4 separate regions of the Homo sapiens genome follow, and all the other regions are reported to be linked to region 1. Evidence: microRNA targets listed by miRTarBase, many of them from high-throughput screens and not tested one by one. Region 1 holds a microRNA gene; each other region holds the end of a gene's coding sequence.
Evidence for each region. The annotated mature microRNA hsa-miR-181b-5p reads AACAUUCAUUGCUGUCGGUGGGU and lies in region 1 at 2,918-2,940, opposite strand. An mRNA with a match to its seed (bases 2 to 7 or 8) in the 3' UTR can be bound and repressed. Matches are read on the target gene's strand: a 7mer-m8 pairs with bases 2 to 8, a 7mer-A1 pairs with bases 2 to 7 and ends in A, and an 8mer does both.

Region 1 (5,071 bases):
TGTTGTTCCAGCTACTTTGGAGGCTGAGGTGAGAGGATCAGTTGAACCCAGGAGGCAGAGGTTGCAGTGAGCCGAGATCACACCACTGCACTCCAGCCTGGGTGACAGAGCGAGACTCCATCTCAAAAAAAAAAAAAAAAAAAAGCTAGAGAACATTATGTATAATTTGTGATGTTATTTTCTCTAAGTATAAATACATGCATTTTAAGTATCTTGAAATATCTGTGAGGCTATACACCGAACAGGATGATGGAAGGGGGTCAGCCAGTAGGCTTTTATTTTGAAAAACAAAAGCCAAAGTATGCCTTTTTGAGATAACCTTTCCTTTCATTCCATTCCTGTTGACTCAGTTCTACCCCTGCTAACTTGTGCAAGAAAGTTCTCTTTTTTCTCTTTTCTTCCCCTCACTTCATCTGCTTAGTGACTCTTCCCAGTCTTGCTTTCATTGTCTCCTTGCTGAGTTTAGCATTTAAAACGGCTCTCTGTTGGACTAATTGACTTTGCGCCTTGCTCACAAGTCCTTCTGTAATATGTCCTTTTACCTTTTCAGTGCCATTCCTTATGACTCCCTAATACAGTCTCTGGACTATTCTCTTCCTGTCCCCTATACATGCCATGTAATTTTTCTGTTACAGGTATTTATTTTGAGGCCTATCTGCAGAAAACACCCTTTAACTTACATAATTGTCTCCCTTCTTGTAGTACTTAGTTTTATCCAAGAGAAAACTTGGATTTGGTTTAATGAAATATATAATTGTTTCATTGGCATATTTAAAGACTATGTAATAGTCTGTAAATAAATAGCATGCTTGTTCAAGTGTACATTTTTCAAAGTACGTGTCAGACATTCTTTTCTAATGTTTTCAGAAATTTTGGAAATAATTGGTTAAAAATAAATGCCTAGAATGCACAGCATCTTGAAAAACAAGACTGCGTGGAGTACCTTCTGTGTGTCTACCAGTCTCACAAAAAACTCTTCTATAAAGACCCCCTCGGGCCGGGCGCGGTGACTCATGCCTATAATCCCAGCAATTTGGGCGGCCGAGGCGGGCGGATCACTTGAGGTCAGGAGTCTGAGACCAGCCTGGCCAACATGGCTCTACTAAAAACACATTTCTTCTAAAAACACAAAAATTGACTGGGTGTGGTGGCGGGCCAGCTACTTGAGAGGCTGAGGCACGAGAATCACTTGAACCCAGGAAGCAGAGGTTGCAGTGAGCCGAGATCGCATCACTGTACTCCAGCCTGGGAAACAGAGCAAGACTGTCTCAAAAAAACAAACAAACGAAAGAAAAACACACACAAAAAAACCTTTTGGTAATTTCTTTGGGTAGGTTTTAGTTTTTTAGATAGCGTAAATCCAAATCCATTCATTTCCATAAAACATCAGACACAATTTGATGTATATTTGGCCACCAAACATGGTGCAAAATTTTATGTAGTCTGGAGATACTTAAAAGCAGCACAAATGTGACTCTACCTGTCTGCACTCAGCAGAATAGTGGCGATTTCAGGTGGTGACACAAAAGGTTGGGCAATAGTTGAAAAGTGGATGACATGAAATGTGGTGGTGGGATGGGGGCAGGAAGCCGATGTTAAGCTAGTGAACTTTATTTACTTTGCTTCCAGCTTCCAGTGACCCAAAATCACCTCGTCTAGAGTAGGGCTCAGGAATTTGCCATTTTAAAAGCAACTCTAGATGATTCTGGTGTACAAGAAGTTTGGGAAACACTGGCTTGAACCTGATATTTTCTCTGAACTCTCATAGTTTTCTTTAGATTTTTCTTTTGGCTTTGATTTCTCTTTCTGGTTCTTGTCTCATTACCCCATCACTTCTCCTTCCTAATTTGACAGGAAAGCCTTGTCAAATTAAGGCTTGCTTAATTGTCAAGGCTAATTTGACAAGACTCTTCTCTTACTGTCTTATTTGACTTTTGCTATGAGAATCTGCTTCTTCTTAGACTTAAGTGTATGATAAATTATTCATGACCAAGGGCCTTGTTTTTCTTTCTTTAACATGGGATTTAGTGGCTTATCTCATGTTACAGGATTTAGAGAGTTGATACTACATTTAAATTTTTTGTTAAGAAAAATGTACATCTTCTATCTCACTTAGGTGTTTTTCCTGTTTGAGGGACATGGTTTGCAAAGGTTAGAATGAATGAGCCTCATAGTTTTTGTCAAAAGAGAATATTGATGTACATCTGAATAATAACCAGAACATTCATATTAAGTCATACTATATAGCCATTTAAAAGAATGACGAGTACATAAAAGACTGTTGTGGAAGTCTATGATATATAGCTGAATAACAAAATAGATTATAGAACAATAGGTAAAAATGAGCTTATTTTTGTCTAAGCCACTCTCCCCCCAAAACATGCAAAATTACAGCTATTTATCTGTGTATGTATGGATAAAGGTCTTCAAGGATATAAAATAAATTCTAGTTATGATATTTATTATCTTAATAAGTTTATTATAATTATACATGTTTTCCTCCGAGGAAATGGATTGCAGATGATGATTGAAGGGATTTTCAATTTTTACTTTGTATATTTTTGTATTTGAATTTCTAAATAATAAGCATATGATTCTGTTTAGAAATTCTGAATGTACTGATTTTTAAAATGTGATGTGATATCCAGATATGTATTTAATTCTTCCTATAAAATATCATTTCCTTAAATCTAGACTATTGAAAAAGGAGAAAAGTACTAGGAATTTAGAGAACTTACTCCATGTTAGAACCAAGGAGAACAAGAAAAGCTTTAGCTAGTGTTTTGGAAATAGTAGCAGCTCCCACTCACAGCAGTAGCTGCTGCACTCAGGCGACTCTCTGCACATGCTTTTGCTTCCTTTGGGTTGTTTGGTCCGCAGTTTGCATTCATTGATCAGTGAGTTGATTCAGACTCAAACCCACCGACAGCAATGAATGTTGAGTGCAGCCATCAGTGTTTTCAGTTGGTGGGGTTGCCTTTGCCCTCCCTGGCTGACTCCTGGCTCTTCTTTTCCATCTCAGTTCTTTGAAGTCTGTGTGTCTGGCTTCTCCCTTAGTAACCAGCCATCTGCATGATTGAGGGCCCACACAGGTGTCCATAACATTGACATTGGAGCTGGGAGGTTATTGCAGATGAGGAAGCTGTGGTTCAGAGAAGGAAGGAGTGCTTGGAGAACCTCACAGGTAGCACTGCGCCACACAGGCAGTGCTTGCATATTAGTACCTGTAAACCACAGCTGAGGGACCTGCTTTTCCTCTTTGTTTTGAACTGAGAAGTATGAGTGCTTTTTTGAGGTAAATTAGCAGATTATGTTGGAGTTTAATAATAACAGCTTACATATATTGAGCATTTGCTGTGGGCTAGTAATGGTACAAAGCACCTTATATATTATCTCATTGAGTCTCAAAACTCCATGATAGGTACTCTTAGCCTCTGTTTTATATGTGAGAAAACTGAGACACTTGCTTAGGGGGTCAAATAACTAGTTAAGGGCTTGAGCCAAGATTCATCCCAGATCTGACTGACTCCAGGGCTAAGTTTTTGCTTGAATTTAGCAAACATTTAAATAAGCATATGTGGGGATATGTGGGCACTAGTAAGGCAATAGCTCATGCTCTAACTGGGATATCAAAAATTAACCATATTAACTATAATTCAAAGTGAAATGTGATAAGAACTGTCACAATTGGATAATTTTGTGCTATTTTTGCTTATTAAATCCTCCCCTTGCCCCTAATTAAAAATTTTGAGAGGATGTGGGAGAAATGGGAGTAATTATTTAACTGGATTTTATTCCAAAACAAAATACGTATTTTTAATAAATTTTTACTTGCTACGTCCTGTTTCTCACCAGAATGGTGCATATCTAGGAGACATGTAGGTACATTAGATATCATCATGGACTGCTCCTTACCTTGTTGAAATGAAACACTTTTTTTGTAAAAACAAACAAATAATAATAAAACACACAACAGAAAGCAAGGAACAGTGAGCAGTAGGAATAAAATTCACTGGACCACATTTGGGGGATTGCAGGACCATTTCTGGTGAACTCATGTGACATGTGAAGGTACAGCTTGCTCTTTTGCTTCAGGAAATGTAGTGTCGTCTGTAAGGACCCCAAGGTACAGTCAACGGTCAGTGGTTTTTTCAAATCCCAAACTCACCGACAGCGTTGAATGTTCCTTGGAGTCCTCTGAAGGCTGGCCTGATAGCCCTTCTTCATTCTCCCATCCACATCCCAAGAACCAGTGAGCAGTGAGACCACCGCTGATGGATGCTCTTACATTCCTCTCTGGGTTTCAAGTCGAGAGTATTTAAATTATAAAATCAATTTGTGTGCAGCAGAGAACTAATGAACTGTGGGATAGACTGTGCAGTAATTTGTACAAGCAGACTCAAATGAATGTCTGAGAAAATGTCTTTGAATGGTATTATTTTGTGATTCTAAAAATGTAAAATACCTGATTTTGCAGTAGTATTTTAATTGTTAACAAGGGTAAGAGATTAACATATATTGGGGATCTGCTATATACTAGGATTTGTATATTTTATCTCATTAAATTCTCAACAACCCACATTTTCCTGATGAAAAAACTTGAAGTGATTTGCCTAAAGTTACATTGCCAGGAGCCAAGGTTATAAGCCAGAATTTGAATACTGGACTTCATGTTTCCAGTGCTCACTCATCATACTGCTTCTGTTGTCTACTACAGAACTTACTGTTGATATCTAGGAGTAGACCCATCACTGCAGAGCCAAAGTCAAACATGTAAATTTCTTCTACTTGTTTGCCTATAATAATAGCAGGTAGGTCTATAGGTGAGGTCATAGGGGAAGATGAAAAACCTCGACCTCCATGATTGATGATCTCCTTTGCTGAGATCCTGCATTACTAAGTTACCACAGAGGTGTTAGTGATAGTCCACAAGCTATTTTCCATATTGAAAAAGCAAAAAATAAACCAAAAACCCACCACCTAATGTAAAGCTTGCATTTCTTCTTAGTTGAGAACACAGAGTGTAACTAAAATGTCAGATGTCATTTGTTCTGGCTGAAACGATACCAGT
Region 2 (5,071 bases), not on the chromosome of region 1:
TGAGAGTGACATGAGTGAGCTCACGGCTGGCCCTTAGAGCCGCACCTGGTGCTGAGCAAGTGCTGGTGCATGTCTGGCCTCCTGATCCCCTGGGTCTTCCTCAGCCCCGTTGTCAGGACTGTGCCTTCCCACATCCACTGCCCAGAGGCCCCCTCAGCACTGCACCAGGGCCTGTGGGGTCTGTGAGAAGCAGCTGGCCAAGGTGGTCAAGGATGGCATCCTATGCTTAAGCTCTGGAACTGGGCTTGTCTTCAAACACAGGCTCTGCCATTATTAGCTGTATGCCTTTGGGCAAATCTGCTGAATGGGAGAATACAGAACCTGCCTCCCAGGTGGTGGTCGGGACAGGTTCAAGGAGTGCCTGGCTCATGCGAGCTCTCAAGGACTTTGTAAGGTTAAGCTGCCAGAGGAAGGTTGGAAGGATGTGACACAAGGGCGTTCTCTGGGTTTGATGGTGGTACAGGCAGGGGCAGGGCTGAAGAGGGTGACAGAGCTCTCTGTAGGGAGGTTGGAGAGGGTGACAGGGCTCTGTGGTGGGCAAGGGATGGGGAGGTTCATGGAGAGCCCCAAGGCAGTGTCTGGTCTGTGGTCTCCTGCAGGCACCCCGCTCAGCCAGGCTATCATTCACCAGTACTACCACCCACCGAACCTTCTGGAGCTCTTTGGAACCATTCTCCCACTGGACTTGGAGGATATCTTCAAGAAGAGCAAGCCCCGCTATCACAAGCGCACCAGCTCTGCTGTCTGGAACTCACCGCCCCTGCAGGGCGCCAGGGTCCCCAGCAGCCTGGCCTACAGCCTGAAGAAGCACTGAGGCTGGCCTGCGGCCTTCTTGGCAGCCTCGCCTCCTGTCCATGTCTATCTGTCTGTCTGTCGGTCTCTGTCTTGGTCTGTTGCCCTCCTTCTTGGCATGCCATTGTGGAGGGCTTGGCCAGGTGTATATAAACGTCCTCTGTGCTGGGTGTTTCTGCTGCAGGTGGCAGGTGGCCCCAGGCCTGTTTGGAGGATGGGCTGGGTGGGTGGGTGGGGAAGAAATGGGCCCAGCCCCACATGGCCTGCAGACAGTGCTCTGTAAATAGTTGTTTTAATTTAGCTGAATGTTAGCATTTTAGTCTTTGGCATTTTAGCGTTTGGGAGGTAGATTAATAAAGTATATTCCTTCAAGCCTGCTGTTGATACCATGAAGACTGGGCGCCTCAGTCCCAGCCCTGTAGCTGTGTGTCTTGGGCCACCAGTGGCCTGCAGGACGAAGGTACTGTTCCATCACCTGCGGTGTGCCTCAGGATCACCAGGTGCAGGCCCCCACCCTCGGAGATGCTGCTGCAGTGAGTGGTTCCACTGCCTGGATAACCCTTGAGGAACACGTCAGTTACTGTCACGATGGGGCAGGTGGAGCTCCTTCCTATTTTTTGGGGTGCTCCCTGTTTGTAAAGGGGAGTTTGTTCATTGGGAAAGACCTGGGTCTTGACACGGCCCTGCCACTTAGTCCCCTACCCTCTCCATTCCCCAGGCTCCACCCGTGCTGCTCAGGTGCAAATGGACTTGAGAGCATCTATGTGCTGGTGAAGCATGAGGTCTGAGTAGAAAAGGGGTATCCCTTGAGACCACCTTGGGACCAGTGCTTGCAAGCAGCGAGATATTTCCCCAGCAAAACCAGGCAGCTGCTAATTAAATGCTTAGAACCAATGAAAGCTGGCTGTGGTCCTGCCTGTGAGCTGCCTACTGCTGCCTTCTGAATGCATATATCTGCTACTGTAGCCCCGGGTTGTCAAACTATGGCCTGTGGGCCAAATCCAGCCACAGTCGGTTCTTTAAAGTTTTATCGAAACACAAGCAATGGAAATGCCCATTTCCATTGTTGTCTCCAGTTGCTCTGCTCCGAGGGCAGTGTTAAGTTGTGCAGCAGAGGCCCCTCCATGCAAAGCTGAATATGTTTACTATTTGAACTTTTTCAGAAGTTCTGCTTAAGGACAAAATAAAGCCTAAATCCAAGAACACTTTTAAAAATGAGGAAATAGTGAACACAATAGACGGAAGTCTGGAAGTTTCTACCCATGCCAAGAAAAGCATTTTATGTTTTGTTCACATATGTTGTGCAATTCAAATTTTTTTCCCTATATTCTCTGACTAGACACTTGTACTGAGTCAATTGGCGAGTGTGTCTGTCTAAAAGCACAATATCAAAATATCACTTAAAGCATCTTTACATAGTGTGTTTAAGAAAAAGTTGTTATTCAGCAGAAAGGTAATTCCAATTGGTCTGCATATTTATCAGCACTTGGTATTGTCTGTTTCTTATTTTAGCCATTCTGATAGGTGTGTACTGATATCTAATCATGGCTTTAATTTGAATTTCCCTAATGGCTGATGGTGAACATCTTTTCATGTGCATTTCTGTCATCTGTATGTCTTTGGTGAAGAGTCTTCAAATCTTTTGTTCATCTTAAAATTGGATTGTTATATTACCATTGGGTTTAAGAATCTACATATTATGGATACAAATATGTTGTCAGATATGTGTTTTGCAGCATTTTCTCCCAGTCTGTAGCTTGTCTTTAAAAAAAAAATTTTTTTTTTTTTTTTTTTTTTTTTTTAGAGATGGGATCTTGCTACGTTGGCCAGGCTGGTCTCGAACTCCTGGCCTGAAGTGATCCTTCTGCCTTGGCCTCCCAAAATGCTGAGATTGTAGGCATGAGCCGCCATGCCTAGCCCAGCTTGTCTTTTTGTTTACTTACCAGTGTTTTTCAGAGAACAAAAATTTTAATTTGATGAAGTCCAATTAATTAAATTTTTAAAATAGAGTGTGATTTTTTTGTCATGTCTAAGAAACTATTGTCTAGTCCTAGGTCCTAATTCTCCTTTGTTTTCTTCTAAATGTTTTATTATTTTACATGTTAACGTTTAGATTTATGATCTATTTTAAGTTTTTTTTAAGTATGAGGTTTATGTTTTTTGTTTGTGTTTAGGAGCATATGGATGGATGTCTAGTTGTTCCAGCACCATTTGTTGGAAAGACTATCCTTTCTCTGCTGAATTTCTTTTATATCTTTGTCAGGAATTAGCCATATTGGTATGGGTCTATTTCTAGACTTTTTATTTTCTCCCATTGATCTGTACATCTCTCCTTTTGCCAATACCACATAAGTCAAGATGACTATAGCTTTGTAATAAGTATTAAAATCTGGTAATATAATTCTTCCAATTTTATTTTTCTTTTAAAATTATTTTGACTATTGTATCAGTGTTACCTTTCCATTTAAATTTTAGGATTAGCTTAGCTACAAAAGTCCTGCTGGGATTTTGATTAGAATTGCATTAAATCTATAGATAAGTTTGGGGAGAATTAACATATTTATGATCGCCTTTTAATCCGTGAACATGACGTGTCTCTCCATTTATTTGCATGTTTAGTTTCTTTCTTCAGCATTTTATAGTTTTAGCATACAGATCTTGTACATATTTTCTTAGATTTGTAACTATTTTCTTGGAGCTGTTGTAAATGGTATTGTTTTTCTGATTTTTGGTTTCTACTTGTTCATTGCTGGTGTATAGAAATACAGTTGGCTTTTGTGTCGGCTTTGTATCCCGTGATGCAAGTAAAGCAGTACTGAGGGGAATTTATAGGGCTCAATGCCTGTGTTAGAAAAAAAGGTCTCAAATCAGTGACCTCAGCTTCCACTTTAAGAAACTAGGAAAAAAAGACCAAATTAAAAGTGTACACAGAAAAGGGGAAATCATGCAAGTAAAACAGAAATTAGACATTAGGAAGAGAAAATATAGAAAATTAATTAACCAAAAGCTGGTTCTTTGAGAAGCTCAAGAAAATTCTCTTTAGACTGATCAGGAGAAAAGATAGATTACCAATGTCAGAAATTAGGTAGCTTCACTACAGATTCTACAGATATTACAACAATAATAAGAGACTATTACGAATAACTTCTAGGAATACATTTGACAATTTAGATGAACCCATGCAGATTCCTTAAAAGATACAAATTAGTTTACTTAGGAAGAAGTGGAAAACCTACATAGCTCTATGAAAGATGTGTTATCACAAAGAAAACGGTAGACATAGGTAGCTTTAGTGGTAAATGTTGCCACGTATTTAAGGGAATAATACTAATTCTGCACAACCTCTCACAAGAAATATAAGAGGAAAGAATACTCAGTTCTGTCTCTGAGGCCAGCATTGCTTTGATCCCCAAATCAGACATTGCAAGAAAAGAAGACAATTATCCCTCATGAACATCAACACAAGAATTCTTAGAGTTTTATCAAGTCCAACAAGTTAAATAAAAAGGATTACACTTTTTGTTGTTGTTGTTGTTGTTGTTGGAGGCAGGGTCTCACTCTGTTGCCCAGGCTGGAGTGCAGTGGTGGGATCTCGGCTTGCTGCAACCTCTGCCTCCTGGGTTTAAGAAACTCTTGTGCCTTGGCCTCCTGAGTAGCTGGGATTACGGGTATGCACCACCAGCCCAGCTAATTTTTGTATTTTCAGTAGAGATGGGGTTTTGCCATGTTGGCCAGGCTGGTCTCAAACTCCTGGCCTCGAGTGACCCACCTACCTTGTCCTCCCAAAGTGCTGAGATTACAGGTGTGAGCCACTATGCCCGGCCAGGATAATGCATCTTGACCAAACAGAGTTTATCTTAGGAATGCAAGGCAGGTTTAACATTTGGAAGTTAATGTAATTCACTATTAATTATAGAGGAGGAAAATCATATGATTAAATTAATAGATACAGAAATTCAATGATTTGATGATTCCATACTAGTAATTTAAGATAAAAGCTTTAAGATTTAAAGGGAATTTCCTCAGTTTGATAGGGCACTTCTACAAAACTCCAGCAAACACTTCCTAGTGAATGTCTAGATGCATTCCTCCTGCTACCAAGTCAAGTACAAGGATGCCCACTCTCATTCCTTCTGAACATTTTATGGTAGTTCTGGCCAGCACAGTAAGGCAAAAAGAAAAAGGCATTGGGAAAGAAGAATTAAAACCTGCCAGAGACAACTTGTAGAATATCTGATAGTATCTACCTAAAAGCTATTAGGATTAATATGGGCTTGGC
Region 3 (5,071 bases), not on the chromosome of region 1:
AGCGAGGGGGCGGGGCCCGGGCCGTGGGAGCGCCTGAGGGGCAGGAGTCCAGTGTTTTAGCCTTCGAAGGACCATGGTGCTTCCACGTCATCGTGTTGTGGCGCTCCCGGCTATGGCAGTACCGTAGTTTTCCTCTCTTCTGCCTGCGGTGACCATTGGGCTGTAGGGTGCCCCGAGGCCTCCCTGGCCCCCTCACGCCGGCAGAATGGCCTCAGCCCGAGGGGCCAAGCAGTCTTCGCCCCGGGTGGGGACCACCCGCTACACAGAGACGTCCACGGTCCGCGTGGAGACCTCGTCCCACCGCGTGGAGACGTCGTCCCGGCGGGTGGAGACCTCCCAGCGCCGCAGCGAGGGGCCCTCCCTCTCCCCCTCGGGGAAGCGGCTCCCTCGCATCCTCGAGGCGTCCTCCCGGCACGTGGAATCCTCCTCGCAGCGCACGGAAACGACCTCCCGCCACGTCAGAGCCTCGTCCCTGAGGGTGGAGACGTCTCTGCACTGCGCGGAGAGCCCGACCCCGCGGGCCAAGCCGGCCGCCCGCCAGAACGAAAAAACGGCCCGATGAGATGCTGCTTCCCAAAGGCCACCAAGGGGCCAGGGCCCTCAGCCAGGACAGAAAGGCCTCCAGTTGCCAGCCAGCCAGCCAGCTGCCAGGTGGACCAATCATTTTCGGTTTCATGGAAACAAACCATAAATCAATGTAAGAAACAGCCAAGCCGCAGTTTCTGAACACAGCCAACGTTTACTGACCGTCCTGCGTCTTGGACCAGCCTACTTTTGACCCAGTGAACTATTTTCACTTGAAGCCAGCACAGAAGGTTTTCAGGCCCAGGATGCTGTCTAAATCGGGTTGATGGACAAAGAGAGGCTGTTTGAGCCTCTGAGCCAGGTGAGTTTGGGATCCACAGCCCTCAGAAAACCTTCACCCCTTAGGAACAGAGACCAAACTGAAATAATGACCTGTGGAATGATTCCATGCCTGCTAAAAACTCGAGGGACAAGGAACAGACTCATAAATTATTAATTGGCCTTTGTTTATGTTTCAAAGTAAATGGTCGTTTTCTTTATGCTAAGTCTTTGTACCTGGCACCCCCATCCATACACTTTTTTAAGGTAGGTTAGATGTGGTTAAAAATGACAGTAAACCCACCAGCAAGCAAAAATAATCTTAGAAAGTGAGAGGAGGTCACTGAAACCTGGCCTGAGGTTTGAAGAAGATGGAGAAGAGTTATATTTATTGAGAACCGGCTCTGTGCCAGGCACTAGATGTTCCTCCACTTACGATGGGGTTACCTCCCGTTGAAACTATTGTAAGTTGAAAATATGGTAATTTGAAAATGCACTTAATACCCCTAACCTACTAAACATCATGGCTTAGCCTAGCCTACCTTAAACATGCTCAGAACACCTAAAGTTGAGCAAAATCATCTAACAGAAAGCCTGTTTTATAATAAAATGTTGAATATCTCATGTAATTTATTGCATACTGTACTAAAAGTGAAAAAGAATGGTTGTAAGAGTACTTAAAGTACTATTTCTACTGAATGTCACTTTTGTACCATTGTAAAGTCGAAAAATCATAAGTCAAACCATCTTAAGTTGGGAACTGTCTGTATTCTGGGAACTTGGGCTATAGCAGTAAAAAAGGCAAAGTCCCAGCTCTAGTGGAGCTTACACTCTGGTGAAAAGGCAGACAAGCAATGATGAAACAAGACAATTTTCTATTGTGATTAGCACTATGAAGGAAATACATGGGTAATGTGATAGAGAATGGAAGTAAGTGGCTTCTTTTGATAAAATGGTCAGGGAAGGCCTTGCTGATTAGTTAACATGTAATCTGAGATATGTGTGAATGAACAGTGATCTGGAACAGGTGCATTCTAGGCAGAAGAACAGCAAATACAAAGGGTGGATGGGAACCAGCTTTGAATGTTCAAGGAACAGAAAGAAGGCCAGTGTGGCTGGAGTGAGAGAGAAGCAATTATATAGACATGGAAGCAGAACGGAAGAGAGGAGTTAAAAGCAAGCAGGGGCCAGTCCACAGAAGGTCTTCTAAGCCACAGTAAGGAATTTGAGATTATTCTAAGGTCAACAGGAAAACATTGAAGGGTTTCCAACAGGGGAACGACATGATGCCATTTACATTTAAAAAATATCCTTTTGGCTTCTGTGTGTAGAATGTGGGACAGTGGTTCTCAACTAAGTGTGATTTTGTCCCCCAGAGGATATATGGCAACCTCTAGAGACATTTTAGTTTGGTTGAAAAGTTGTTGGGAGGGGGTGGGTGGCACATTAGGTGCTACTGGCACCTAGCGGGTAGAGTCCGGGGATGCCACCTGACATCCTACAGTGCACAGGTCAACACCCTCCCCTCTGCCAACGATGAAGAATCACTGGTCCCAAAATGTCAATAGTGCCAAGGCTGAGAAACACTGACAGTTCTAGCAGCTTGGAAAGCTAGAGCATGGTCTACTGGGACAGCGCACCACTTTAAGGAACAGTCATGGAAGAGGGTTACCTTTAAAAGTAAAGAGAAATCATCAAAGAAAACAGCAACACAAATGAGACACAATACCTACCACTCATGGGCCACTATGTAGGAATTTTAACAGTGATCTCTAAGGTAGGCTGTAATAACTGTGGCTTCCCCTATTTTAATAATGCATTGTAACAATTGTTAACAGTGATTAAGTTTCGCAAAAGCACGTGCTGAATCAGTTAAGAAAAACTTAGGATGCAAGCTGAACAAGAGACTCCAGAGAGCCTAAAAGATGATGGAACATATGCATATATAAGAATCACAAGTAACACAATGATACACAGGTCTGGCGACGATATTTCAAACGTATGCAAGCTCATGTGAGAAGCAGAAAACCAATCAAGGACACGCTTTAAGACACAAGGAGGACACGCTTTAAGACACAAGTCCTCTCCCTTAGTCTCGCCCACGCTGGGAAGCTGGTGGGGTCGTGTTTGAATAGCAAAGGTGTGCGAACAAACCAAATTAGGAAAACTGCAGAGTACCTTAGCCTTTCTAGACGCTGCAAGAGCCTTCTCTCCTCCCTGTCCAAATACTAATCCTGCCGGGAGTGAGGCCTGGAAGGAGGCCCAGGGGAAGCGGGAGAAGAGGTCTGGGCCAAGGAGAGTTCTATCTGCGAAGACTCCAGGCTCAGAGCGCTACTCACCTGTCTCCAGGGCGACGGCAGCGGCCATAACAGGCAAAGACAGCGAATCGCCACCTGCCTAACAGAGGAAAAGCCCGGAGGGGCGGGAGGAGTTCCGGAAACCACGGCTCCCTCTTGCGGTCCCGGGGCACCGAGGAATATGGGGACGGTGGCTCCGCTCATCCCCGGCCAGGCCCGCTTAGCCCGCGCTGGCTCCGGAATGGCGAGGGGGCGGTGCCGGGCTGTGGGAGCGCCTGAGGGGCAGGAGTCCAGGGAGGCAGACTTTTACCCTCAAAAGGAATGAGTCCCAGAGCCTGGCACAAGGAAGACAAGTGTGCAAAGTTGGTGGAATGAATTCGGTGGCCTAAATGTACCTTCCTCAAATGCCACGGCTGACTGGGTCTCCTCGCCCACTTCACCCTCTCTTGCAATCCAACTTGTGAGGCGTGTGTGTGTGTGTGCATGTCCGCGCTTGCCTTTAGATGGAGGTTGGCTTCCCAGCCATCCAGGCTTGCATACACGTGCATAACTCCTACCCCTACCTCGCCTGCCTGCTGTACCAGGGGTTGATTCCTTCTTCCTGCGTGTTTTCTGTCCAAATCCTTTTCTGATTTGGACAGAAAACACGCAGGTGGCACACAGTAAGCGCTTAATAAATTTTCCGGCTACCTGATCTTCTTGGAATTGAGGGCATGCTCCTGTGCGCCCCTCATTGCACAGAGCTCCCTTGTCTGGAAACTCAGCAGTCACCGGAGCCGCCGTCGGTCCTCTCGCTTTCTCTATTTTAAAAAACGTTTCAACCGCTAGCGCTGTTGGATCTCTACCTTTCAGGCTTTATCACCTGGGGTGGAGTGGGTGGTGAGAGGGAAGGGATGGGGAGTCAAGACAGGAGAACGCTCTCGATTTCCCGACCCACCTCCCGTCATATCTCATGTCATATCTACCGGGTGTTCTACCCGGTCCTGTTACTTTTTTTCTTCCGCGAAAGCCCAAATTCCCATCACTGCTCTAGCTCTCTCCCAGATCGCCAAATCCGGATGTCTGTCTCAGGGAACGTCAAAGCAACATGCCCGGATGAGGTCCTCCCCTCTCCCCACCTCCCAGCCCTCTCCTCCTGCCTCCCCCGGTGTCACCCGCGCCTCCTTCCTCTCTTCACCTCCCTCTAAACAAGAATCCGGCGCAGTCAGTTCTAGACCCTGAGCATCTCCCGCGTCCCTGCCCAATATCCGTCCCGCCCCCGATCGCCCGCGTCCTCTTGAACCTGCGGAGCCCTGCTCCCCGCACTCCACGCCCTTGCTCCGAGCTTCCGAGAAAGCGGGGCAAAGGGAGCCAGAAAGAGAGAAAATGCGCACGGAGCAGGTGGCCCCGCGACTCCATGGTGAGGGGACGGGGCACGGAAGGTGGAAAGGCGCGCTCCCTCCTCCCTTTTTTCCTCCCTATGGTGGGCAGTTGGTGACACACAGTAAACGCTCAATAAATGTTTCCGCTACTCGATCTCCTTGGAATTAAGGGGATGCTCCTGAGCGCCCCTCATTCCACACAGCTCTGGTGCCTGGAAACTGCGGTCGCCGGAGCGGTCGTCGGTCCTCCCGGTTTCTCTATTTTAAAAGCCATTTCAAACCTCCAGCGGCCTCGCCACCTCTGCTGCAGACCTTCCAAGCCCTTCTGAAGCCGGAATGATTTCTCCCTAATTCACTCCCCCTGCTTAACACATTCGAACGGCTCCCGCTTGTTCTCGGGACCAAATCCAAAGCCCCTGGCGCCACCTTCGAGAGCCTCCGGACCTGCTGACCCCCCACACCTGGGCTCTGAGCTCCAGATCCAAGATGCTGCTCGCCCTCCCTTCCCCGCCGCTCTCTTTCTGCGCGCCTTTCCCCTGCCTTCCCTTTCTGTCACTCTCCCTGGCTGAG
Region 4 (5,071 bases), not on the chromosome of region 1:
GTTGTCCTTCAATTAGTCAAATTGACAAGAAACATTTGTGTTCCTGGCCGGGCATGGTGGCTCATGCCTGTAATCCCAGCACTTTGGGGGGCCGAGGCAAGTGGATCACCTGAGGTCAGGAGTTTGAGACCAGCCTGGCCAACATGGTGAAACCTCGTCTCTACTAAAAATACAAAAATTAGCTAGGTGTAATAATTGTACATGCCTGTAATCCCAGCTACTTGGGAGGCTGAGGCAGGAGAATTGCTTGAACGCGGGAGGCAGAGATTGCAGTAAGCCAAGATCATACCACTGCACTCCAGCCTGGGTGACAGAGTGAGACTTCGTCTCCAAAAAAAAAAGTGTGTTCCTTAAATTCTATAATAGAGACTTTCTGTTTAGCCCAATGCAGTTTCAGACTAACTTTGCTGCTATGTGAGGTGTCAATATGAATTTTTGGCCAGGTGTGGTGGCTCATTCCTGTAATCCCAGCACTTTGGGAGGCTGAGGCAGGTGGATTGCCTGAGGTTAAGAGTTCAAGACTGGTCTGGCCAACATGGTGAAATCCCATCTCTATTAAAAATACAAAAAATTAGCCAGGCATGGTGGTGTGCACCTGTAATCCCAGCTACTCGGGAGGCTGATGCAGGGGAATGGCTTGAACCAGGGAGGTGGAGGTTGCATGAGCTGAGATCACGCCACTAGACTCCAGCCTGGGTGACACAGCAAGACTCCGTCTCAAAAAAAAAAAAAAAAGAATTTTTGGTCTGGGCTGGGTATATAATGAACACCTTTCTAAAATATGCGACTGAGAGCCAAGTTGAAGCACAGACTAATCTTTTAATCCGTACACTTAAACACCCATCTGGGCAACAGCAAAATCAGAAGTCTGCCATGCTCAATACATTTTCTTATGCCACCAAGACATTTTAAACATGTAAATAAAACAAACAGAAAGGTGGTAATCATATCCTTAGAAGCTGAATCTTGAATACAAAAACTTTAAATTGTTCCCTATTTCATCTTTATTCATTGCTTTAATTTTCTTCCATTTGGCCAGTCTCTTGCTAAATTAACATTACAGTCTGATTTTCTGAGTCTGTCATTCTAAGAAATTTCAGCTGGTTATTTTTACATTTTATTAAAAAACTTTTTTTTAAGACATGGTCTTGTGCTGTCTCTCAAGCTGGAGTGCAGTGGTGTCATCATGGCTCACGGCTGGCTCAACCTCCCAGGCTTAAGTGATCCTCCCAGCTCAGCCTCCCAAGTAGCTGGGGGCACAGTAGTGAGCCACCACGCCCTGCTATTTTTTAAAAAATTTTTGTAGAGATAGGGTCTCACTATGTTGCCCAGGCTGGTCTTGAACTCCTGGGCTCAAGTAATCCTGCCTTGGCTTCCCGAAGTGCTGGGATTATAGGTGTGAGCCACCATGCGTGGCCTCAGCTGGTTAAACACTTCCGCACCTTATACACATTTTAGAGATTTATCATTGTGGTTCAGAGTAACAGAATATTCTGAAGTTTCTTTCTTTTTTTTTTTTTTTGAGACGGAATCTCGCTGTTGCCCATGCTGGAGTGCAGTGGCACGATCTCGGCTCACTGCAACCTCCGCCTCCCAGGTTCCAGTGATTCTCCTGCCTCAGCCTCCCAAGTAGCTGGGATTACAGGCATGCGTCACCAAGTGGGTCCAGCTAATTTTTTAATATTAGTAGACACAGGGTTTCACCATGTTGGCCAGGCTGGTCTCGAACTCCTGACCTCAGGTGATCCGCCCGCCTCGGCCTCCAAAGTGCTGGGATTACAGGCGTGAGCCACCACACATGGCCTGAAGTTTCTTTTTGCCATATATTGTTTAGGTCTATTCTTACTGCCAGGTCCTGATCCTGTTTGTTGCTGCTAGTTTATTGGGCAGAGAGAAGCAAGAGTCTCGTAACTTTGGCTGGGAACATTTAGTTACTCCTAACCACAGTTCCGTCTTTACCTGGTACTGCAGGAATGAAGGCAGACAACAGAGTAGGGATAAAAGCAGGAGCTCTGCAGCCAGAATGCCCAGGTTAAAATCTGGCTTCCTCGACAACCAGCTGTGACCCTTGGCAAGTGACTTAATCCTTCAGTGCCTCGGAATCCTCATCTGTGAAATGGGGTTAAAAATACACTCCCCTCAGAGGGTTTTTGAGATAAAATAAGTTAATTTTCATAAACCACTTGGAGCAGTTTCTAGCCCATGGTAACTATTACCTACATGCTTATTAAATATCCTTATTTCTTTTTTGGAGGTTTTTAAAAAATATTTTTCTATCTCCATGGCTACACCCTCCTGCTAGAACCTAAGGATACTGAATCTATGGAGCATATTCAAGACCTGTGACTATTCCATGTCAGATATGGACGAGTAACAGAGCGTTGCTGCGCATTAAGTATGTCGTCTACAAAATGGTGCAAGTCCTGCATGCCTACCCTTTGGAGAAAAGAGTGCAATCTCTCTGCGCTAACCCACAAACACACACAAAACCTTTCCAAATCATCCTGTCAGAGATGTACTTTCACTTCAGAGAATAATTCTGTCCAACTTAGAGATTTTGTTGTTTCTGGTAATATACCACAGCATCTCACCTAAGAGTTTGCTTATTACAGATCAGAACACATTTGAACTCTAGGCTTTACGTGCAGAACACACGGAAGGTGATGCCATCAGGCTACTACCAAAGGACCCTTCTTCCAGTGTCTCAAATATATGGATTTTATAAATAAGAAACATTTCTGATTAATCAGCATTGTAGGTTCAAGTAAAAAAAAAAAAAACTGGCATAGAATTCTAGTCTTCCTACTTAATTTCCTAATGATTCTTGGTGTCCTTGTCAGAAAATTATTATTTTTTTCTTTTTTTTGAGACAGTCTCGCTCTGTCTCCTAGGCTGGAGTGCAGTGATTCGATCTCAGCTCACTGCAACCTCCGCCTCCCAGGTTCAAGCGATTCTTCTTGCCTCAGACTTCTGAGTAGCTGGGATTACAGGTGCCCGCCACCACGCCCGGCTAATTTTTATATTTTTAGTAGAGATGAGGTTTTGCCATGTTGGCCAGGCTGGTCTTAAACTCCTGACCTTGGGTAATCTGCCTGCCTTGGCCTCCCAAAGTGCTGGGATTACAAGAGTGAGCCACTACACCCGGCTGAGAAAATTATGTTTTGAAGTTCACTTTACTTTGAACGAGTCCTTTATCTGGAATTGTTCAATACATAGTTTGAGTTTATTGAACAGTCCAGTTCTTATGCCCCTTGGAGATTTTATAGTGGGGTCTTTGAAGGAAGTGCAAAGTAGGATCTCATCAAATGACTCTAGATGGTGAAATATATGTGGTCTCCAGTCAGCAACTATCAATCTTGGATGTACAAACAGCATTAAATGCCATCAATAATCCAAGTGAATACTAAGGGAATCATGATTCAAAGTAAGCTAAACAGAACCCAAGAACAGATAAAAATGCACCTTCGTTGGGGACAGTGTGGCCTAGGTAACCGACGGGTTATTGCCCTGATGAGAGGTGAGAGAGACACACCATCCCAGGACAGAACACTCACCCGCCTGTCCTCAGAGATGAAATGAGATGCCAACACTTTTTTTTTTGAAACTAAATACATTTTAATAGAAAACAAAATACAAAATAACTCTTTTCAGAAAACAGAAATATTTAATCCTTTTTCCACAAATTAGAACTTGCTTTATCCTCAGAGCATAGTTTGATATGCGTGCGTACATACTTACGATTTGTTTCACAAAGTGTTCATTAGACTGGTATTGCAGTGCAGGACGTGGGAGCAGTTCATTGCAGGAGAAAAAGACGTGGAAAAAGCCACACCTCTGAATGGTCATTCAGAAATTCAACATTTTTCTAATTCTATCTTGTTACTTATTACTCCAAATTATTCTTTATCATAATCTTTCTTTTGAGGGGAGAGAATTATTAAGAGAAGTGCAGCTTTGGAAAGAATTTTTCTTTCCCACCATCACTGCAGGAGCCCAAAGTGTTCTCAATCAAACCCACCCACCCACTTCCAGAAACATGTCAGCCAGGGTGATCAATCTGTCACCCGAAATTTCCCTTTCTCCCAATACACTGTGCTACCAAATTCTCTGAATTCCCTGAACCTCAAAATTCCAAGTATCAAAACCAGTGCCAGGAGTCAAACCTGAAAGATTAAAAGCAGAGAAGGTGCCCTCTGCCAGTGCTAGGTTTCCTCATGTCAATAATAATAATAATTATAATTATAATAACAATAATTAAAAAAAATCCTGGTTCTCTGTAATTACGGAAAAGGAAAGACTATTTGCCAGGATCATGCCCTCCCCTTTCCTCATTCCCGCCCCACATCCCTCTGCCAACAAGGACTTCCCTCCCACCTGAGGGCTGGACCATGCGTGACCCCTGCGGCGCCACTTCTCCTGAGGGTGCTCTACAGCCGCCCTCTAACCAAACCTAGCCCCAGTCAGATGGTGAAAATGAGAGACAGGAAGGTGCTCGCATGCGCGAGGTCACGGCAGAGTCTCCATGAGGACTTGTGAGTGACCTCCAGGGCACTCTAATTCTTGATCACTCATCATTGCCTCTCTCCTGTTCCCCTCCCCAACCTTGGCCTTCGACACTGGGGGGCTGAGTGAAGGGGGACCTGCCCGGAATGAGGGCCCAGGAGAGAGGGGAGGAGGGGGCTCTTTCACAGTCAATGATTCAATCTCAGCTCATTGAAGGATTGCAACTGGAGGCTTTCCACTGTTACCCCAGTCCGTTCCAACAAAGTTAAAAAATTAATGTTCCTGATTTTCTTGTGTAATTCCAGTCACCAGAAGAAGGTTACAGGCCATGAACTGCACGCTCAGGACGTTGCTCATCTGCCCGGTGTACACGCCCACGAGCTCGCTGGAGGAGCCGTCGGCAGGTGCACTGCAGTAAGTGTTCCTGATGTCCCAGACGCGCACCGAGTTGTCCATGGAGGCAGAGGCAATCAAGCCGCTGTCTGGACTGAAGGTGAGGCTGGTGATATTGTCTGTGTGGCCTCTCAACTCTTTATAAAGGGTCCCAGAGGCCAAGTCCCACAGCTTC

Region 2: miRTarBase lists INCENP as a target of hsa-miR-181b-5p. Seed matches in the 3' UTR shown: 7mer-m8 at 1,095-1,101.
Region 3: the mRNA of C17orf100 is a reported target of hsa-miR-181b-5p. Seed matches in the 3' UTR shown: 7mer-m8 at 1,539-1,545.
Region 4: miRTarBase lists TAF5L as a target of hsa-miR-181b-5p. The part of its 3' UTR that is shown has no 7-base or 8-base seed match.

Annotation. Positions count from the first base shown.
Region 1 is chr9:124,691,594-124,696,664 of GRCh38, reverse strand. It overlaps MIR181B2 (microRNA 181b-2), which reads right to left and starts at 2,955; the gene lies at 2,867-2,955. The region is part of intron 2 of NR6A1 (nuclear receptor subfamily 6 group A member 1); the gene reads left to right. The region is part of intron 1 of MIR181A2HG (MIR181A2 host gene); the gene reads right to left. It overlaps MIR181A2 (microRNA 181a-2), which reads right to left and starts at 4,223; the gene lies at 4,114-4,223. RefSeq lists an enhancer at 1,098-1,643.
Region 2 is chr11:62,151,163-62,156,233 of GRCh38, forward strand. It overlaps INCENP (inner centromere protein), which reads left to right. Exons shown (of 19, transcript NM_001040694.2): 19 at 600-2,007. The coding sequence ends at 814. Among named protein-coding and RNA genes, the nearest start is that of INCENP, 30 kb to the left of the region's middle.
Region 3 is chr17:6,651,709-6,656,779 of GRCh38, forward strand. It overlaps C17orf100 (chromosome 17 open reading frame 100), which reads left to right and starts at 54. Exons shown (of 1, transcript NM_001105520.2): 1 at 54-1,768. The coding sequence starts at 206. The coding sequence ends at 562. It overlaps MIR4520-1 (microRNA 4520-1), which reads right to left and starts at 3,801; the gene lies at 3,732-3,801. It overlaps MIR4520-2 (microRNA 4520-2), which reads left to right and starts at 3,741; the gene lies at 3,741-3,794. RefSeq lists silencers at 1-71, 372-421 and an enhancer at 3,399-3,971.
Region 4 is chr1:229,589,521-229,594,591 of GRCh38, forward strand. It overlaps TAF5L (TATA-box binding protein associated factor 5 like), which reads right to left. Exons shown (of 5, transcript NM_014409.4): 5 at 3,614-5,071. The coding sequence ends at 4,777. Among named protein-coding and RNA genes, the nearest start is that of ABCB10, 33 kb to the left of the region's middle. RefSeq lists an enhancer at 4,996-5,071.